Linked DNA regions of Homo sapiens: region 2 is linked to region 1. Evidence: fine-mapped expression QTL. A gene starts in region 1. The other region holds a variant in brackets. All regions are shown on one strand. Distances are from middle to middle.

The links.
Region 2: its variant is fine-mapped to the expression of KPNA1 in whole blood (TOPMed, PIP above 0.99).

What each region holds. Positions count from the first base shown.
Region 1 is chr3:122,513,535-122,516,446 of GRCh38, forward strand. It overlaps KPNA1 (karyopherin subunit alpha 1), which reads right to left and starts at 1,405. Exons shown (of 14, transcript NM_002264.4): 1 at 1,223-1,405. LOC107984000 (a long non-coding RNA gene) reads left to right here and starts at 1,495. Exons shown (of 2, transcript XR_924403.3): 1 at 1,495-1,594. RefSeq lists a silencer at 683-1,372.
Region 2 is chr3:122,458,178-122,461,089 of GRCh38, forward strand. All of the region lies in intron 5 of KPNA1 (karyopherin subunit alpha 1), which reads right to left. Among named protein-coding and RNA genes, the nearest start is that of WDR5B-DT, 43 kb to the left of the region's middle. The variant G/A (reference allele first, on the strand shown) is at 1,579.

The sequences.
Region 1 (2,912 bases):
GAGCCTTGCTGGTGGCATCCGCCTGTAGTTCCAGCTAGTAGGGAGGATGCCTTGAGGCCAGGAGTTCCAGATCAGCCCGGGAAACAAAGCAAGACTCCATCTCTTAAGAAAAAAAAAAACAAAACAGGAGGGGGGAAATCACTTCATCTACTAATAGAGATTTTTAAGCAACCGTTTATTTAAGAAAAAAGGGTGAAATTCAAGTTAATATTACTTGACAGTACGTTTCAGAAAAAAAAATACTCTGCAGAGCTGGGTGTGGTTGCCCAAGACTAGTCCCAGCTACTTGGGAAGCTGAGGCAAGAGGACAGTTTGAGCTCAGGAGTTGGAGTACAGCCTGGGCAATATAGCGAGACCCCATCTCTTTAAAATACAAACAAAAACTCGGCAATCGTTTGTTCTGAGTTGAAACCTTAAAAATCAAATATTTTGAACGCTTTCATTTAAAAGTGGAACACGACCCAATCCTAAAACATTACTTCATGACGACTTCCTTGACTCCAGTCATCCTTGTTTCCTCCTCCCGTTTTGAGCTTAATCCGATACCTCGCTGCTTCCCTCGCATCGCACACGCGGCGTGCAGACCAAGTTCTGTCATTGCTATAATTACCACACCCCCGATCAGCCGCTCCAGGCCCATGTTGTTATGACATCGGTAAACTGCAGCCGGCCGTCTCCACCCCCCGCTTCCCCCACCTCCCTCCGGGCCGCCGGCTCCGACCCGGTCTGTAACTTGTGAATTCCCAAGACGGTCCCTTTTTGCCAGGGTTAGAATTTTTACACGCCACCCCTGCTCCTTCCTGCCTCTGTCACAGCGCTCTGCGCGGCCCACCCCCGCCTCCCGCCCGCCGCCCGGCCGCGGCGCAGGCTCCGCGCTCGCCTCCTCTCCGCCCGCTGCCTCGGCGCCCCGCAGTCCCCGGCGCCGCTTACAGCCCCGCCGCCGCGCCACGCCGCCCCGCCCCGCCTAGCCTCGACCGGCGTTCCCGATGGCGATCACACCAGGGCTCCCCACCCCCACCCTCTCCTCCGCCGGCCTTGTGGCCGTTAGGACAGCCGGGCCCGTGACGCACGGACGCGGCGCGAGCGTCCGGCCCAGGAACCCCGGCTCTAGGCCCTGCCGGCACCCGCCCTCGCCCCAGGGCCTCTCCTGAGTCCCTCCGGGACTGCCCGGATCTGCCGGCGGGAGGGGGAGGGGCCGGGGCCGCAAGGCCCCAGCACTCACCAGGCTCAAGGCAACCGATCCCGGTGCCACCGCTGAAGTTAGCCCCTCGCTCGCCCGCCCGCCGTGCCACTCCCGCGCACAACCTCGAAGAGCTGGCCCGCGCCTCGGCGGTGCTCACCAGGCCTCGCTCTCCGCCGCCTCGCACCGAGCAGCGAGACTCAGCTCAGCCGGCGTTCGCAGTGCGCCTGCGTGCGGGGGCCGGCCCGAGCGCCTACGCGCGCCCCTCCGGCGCTTGTCGCAGAGGCTGCCGGGAGACGTAGTCTTGTAACGCTCTCTCGCCGGACATTCCTAATGGTTAGCGCCCAGCCTGTGAAGAGTCGGGGGTCGGGGAGGGGGTCTCGCTAAGAAGGAGGTTTGCAGACCATGGCAAAGGTTGGAGAAAGTTATATGTACAAACCTGTCTTTGCTAAGCTCTTCCAGGGCGGATCGATGCTCACCTCTGTATAGCTTCTAAGTACCTAATACGCGTTGATGGAATGAATGATGGAATGATTGAAGGCTGAGGGAGTATTACAAAATTAGTAGGTCAGCGCCTCGTGTCTAAAGGGCTCACATGCAGCATGAATGCAGGAAGCTTCTGGACATTCCTTTTTTAGTTATCTCCCATCCCCTTTGCTTGATAACGTATGCGTAGTATCAAAAATAATTAAGGGCCGGGCGCGGTGGCTCACACCTGTAATCCCAGCACCTTGGGAGGCCGAGGTGGGTGGATCACTTGAGGCTAGGAGTTTTGAGACTAGCCTGGGCAACATGGCGAAACCCCGTCTCTACTAAAAACACAAAAATTAGCAGGGGGTGGTGACGGGCGCCTGAAGTCCCAGCTACTCGGGAGGCTGAGGTGGGAGAATCACCTGAGCCCGGGGTTGACGGTGAGACTGCAGTGAGCCGAGATCGCGCCACTACACTCCAGCCTGGGCAACCGGAGTGAGACCCTGCCTCAAAAATAATAATAACAATAATAATAATAATAATAATGAAACTACATGAAACACATACTCGTTTTACTCTCAACTGCTCTCAAACGAAAACTTGGAGCAAATGATTGCTAATGTTAAATTTCATGGAATTCTTTGGGGGAGCAAATGGAGTAGTGGCTTCAAAAGAAGAAAAACTGAAGCCAGCCTAGCAGGGATCACGGAATAGTAGACAGATTTAAAACACATGCCAAGAAGCAAGGTGAAAGAGATGAGGTAGATTAATACATTTATAAATGTCCCAGGGAAGAGGAGAGGAGAGAGGACCACTCTACCTGAATCCTAGGTTATGCAATGTTCATTTGTCCTGGACTTCTCTCTGCTGCATCAGCATTCTCCCGCTGATGTTGTGTTTACTAAGATCAGAGTTGAGTTTGAGCAAGGGGGCTGGGGAAAGGGAAGGTGTGTTCAACAGGAGAGACTTAAGGGCAAGTTTGCCTGACCACAGCTAGACTGAAGACAGATCACCTTATTCCAATAAGGAACTAAGACTGATTATTCAGAGCCGGTCTTCAGTCTTTGGGAAAGCTAATTTATTTCCGGTTCACCCTTATTCCTAGCTAGTCCTTGATGGTCCCATCCAAAAGTCTGGGGTATTTACTAGGGCCTCTTCTCTTTGGTGGGCCTTCTAAGCCCCATGAGACAGCCATAAGCTCTTCTCCCTGTTTCAGCCACTGCTTTCAGAGTCAGCAATCACCTTAGCTTTGGAAAAATGA
Region 2 (2,912 bases), 55 kb before region 1:
TGCCACATCTCAGCATTGCAAAGGACAGCACAAAGATACTGGGCCTGGACTCAAAGAAGCAAAAAAGTAGGCTCACAGACCATGCCATAAACCAGACCAGTCTCATGACAAGGGCTCAAGTCTATCTGAGACCTAGATGTCACTGAGCTTGAGAATGCGCTTAGCTAAAAGCCATTGTCTGCTTCCAAAATCCTAGATTCCACCCATGTTCACCTTCAGCACCTGGGTAGCAATGCTCAAAGCAGGCACTTTTATCTCCCTGGTTTGAGGTACCTTACTGACTTGGGAAGCCAGAAAGAACATAAAAAGACCCTTCAATAGGATTCACAGTTCTTTATCTATGGAATGAAGAAATTAAGTTTGTCCACAAGATTTATTAGTGAGCTGAGCCATCAAATTTCCTCTTGGCACCACATAGCATGACTCTCCTTCTGGAAGAGAAATGACAAAAGCCCTATTCCAAAGGTGCATTATTCAAGTTCTAGTAAGCAGGTAAGAGTATCAGGGATAGCTTACATCTGTCTGCTCTCCAAGAAGGCAGAGGAAGGAGTAACCTCCAAGCTTCCCAGAGCATGTCTAATTATTTGAAAGCATGGTAGATCATCAAGTCTCCTGGCTTTAAGGTCTCTCTCGATATATTTGCCCCCTTGCTTCTGAGGTGGTCAAAGGTCCCCACTAGTCACAGTGGAGGGAGAACACCATGGTGTCCTTAAATGTGCACATAAAAAAGCTAGAGATGGCCCTTAGATAACAAACAGTTGGTTATTTCTCAGAGTTAGGACAGCTAAGACTATCCTCATAAAATCATGAGGTTATCACTTCCGGAGGAATCATTTTGCAATATTTCAGCCTAATTATTAGTTTGCACAAGGGTGGAATCTGGGAGTTTACATAGAAGCAAATTAGAGATTTCTGAAGGCTTTCATCTTCAGATGTGTTAAAATACAAGTTCCAAGATTACAGAGTAATGAATTAAAAAAAGATGTAGAATGTCTTAGCCAGAAGAGGGCACTGTCGGAGAATGTACTTGTACTTTTTAAGGAGTACAAGGGAATGCAGAGATGGGGAAAGATCCATTTCTCCGACTTTTTTCATTTTAGATCTGAAAGGTTATATACCATCTATATTTAATGCATAAAAGAACTACCACCTAATAAAAACCGCCAGATCAAGGAGTAAATTCAGTATCTCTCATCTACTCTCATTCCCAGAGACAGGAAAGAAACACTTTTTTCAGCATGAACAAAATAATTTTCCCTACCTCCCTCTTCCTACAAAGCATTTCAAATGATAAACTGCAGTAAGGTTCCTCATTTGGTCCCTCTGGTTCTCGGCAGGTTGCTTAGGGGATCAGGCTCTGTTCTCTGCAGTGTTGGTTGTCTGGATTTCCTTTTATCCTGAGAAAAGTCTCTCTTCCCTTGCTCTCAGGGTGAACGTGATTATTTTTCAGGTGTCTGATGATCCTGGCCTTAGATGGGGACCAGAATTACAATCCAGGAGGCAGCTAGCAAAACAGAACCTTAATTCAAATGAGCATGGGAACTGGTAAGTGTCAAACTGGAGAAGAAAAACTGATGT[G/A]ACATTGAAGTACTCTACCTTTTCTGGATTTCTTGTTTTTCCTCTGGAAGGAACTCATCACCGCAACAAAGAGTGTAAAACAAAGAGAAAGAAGGGATAGGAGGAAAGGAGAGAAAACATCAAGGCAAATCATCAAGTTGTATGAATAATCTATAATGGTGTAGACAGTAAGGAACCTGGGGACAGGAGCTATCACTTAACAAAAATGCCCCAGTGTCTACATGGCTCCAGCCTTAGAGTAAAGAACAGCACACAAGGGGTGGGGGATATCTTTGATTAACTAGTTTTTGGCAAATATTTACTTAGAAAGATAATCCCATTTTGTGATCAACTTGGTACCTAACCAATTTTTATAGCTGCATAGTCTCAGGGCCCAAGCCTTTGAGATTAGATCCTACAGGTGAGAATTTAGGGATCACATGTATTTGTAACTAATAAAGGCACTGACTCAGTTGGTTACTCCAGGGAAGTTTACTAAAAAATCATCAGTTTCTAAAAACCCAACTTTATCCAGGGGGAAAAAAAATAGTAGTTTAGAATTTCTAGGATGAGAGTCAGCTGACTGTTGGTTTCTTTTCTTATGAAAATTATTGAATACTTGGCTGGGAGCAGTGGCTCACACCTGTAATCCCAGCACTTTGGGAGGCCAAGCAGGTGGATCACTTGAGGTCAGGAGTTTGAGACCAGCCTGGCCAACATGGCAAAACCTCATCTCTACTAAAAATAAAAGAATTAGCTGGATATGGTGGTGGCTGCCTGTAATCCCAGCTTCATGGGAGGCTGAGGCAGGAGAATCACTTGAATCTGGGAGATGGAATTTGCAGTGAGCTGAGATCTTGCCACTGCACTCCAGCATGGGCGACAGAGCAAGACTCTGTCTCAAGAAAAAGAAGAAAAAAAAAAAAAAGAAAATTCTGAATCCAGAGATTACAAAATTTCCTCTTGGAATCCCTTATATAGTACAGTACTGAAAGCCTAAATTGACACAGCAATAAGTACACAGATTCCTGACAAAGTTATCTCCTTATCGGCTTTTTGTGGGGTGGAGGAAGAATTAATTAGGAACAGATTTGGGAATTAATAAGACTCTGATCTAGCCCATGTTACACCATCCTGAGAAAGCCACCAAGTATCATCTAAAACTCCCTCAACACCAAATTTTATGTAGCCCACACATAAGTTCCTGGCTGTAATGGCTCCTCTGCTGTAAACATTTCCCTATTAGAGAAGTATTATCCACAATCATAAACATTTTAAATGATTAAAAATTATAATAATAATAAAGAGTATAACGAAGGCCTACATGTTAACAAAGCTATGAAAGCAGCTTGCAA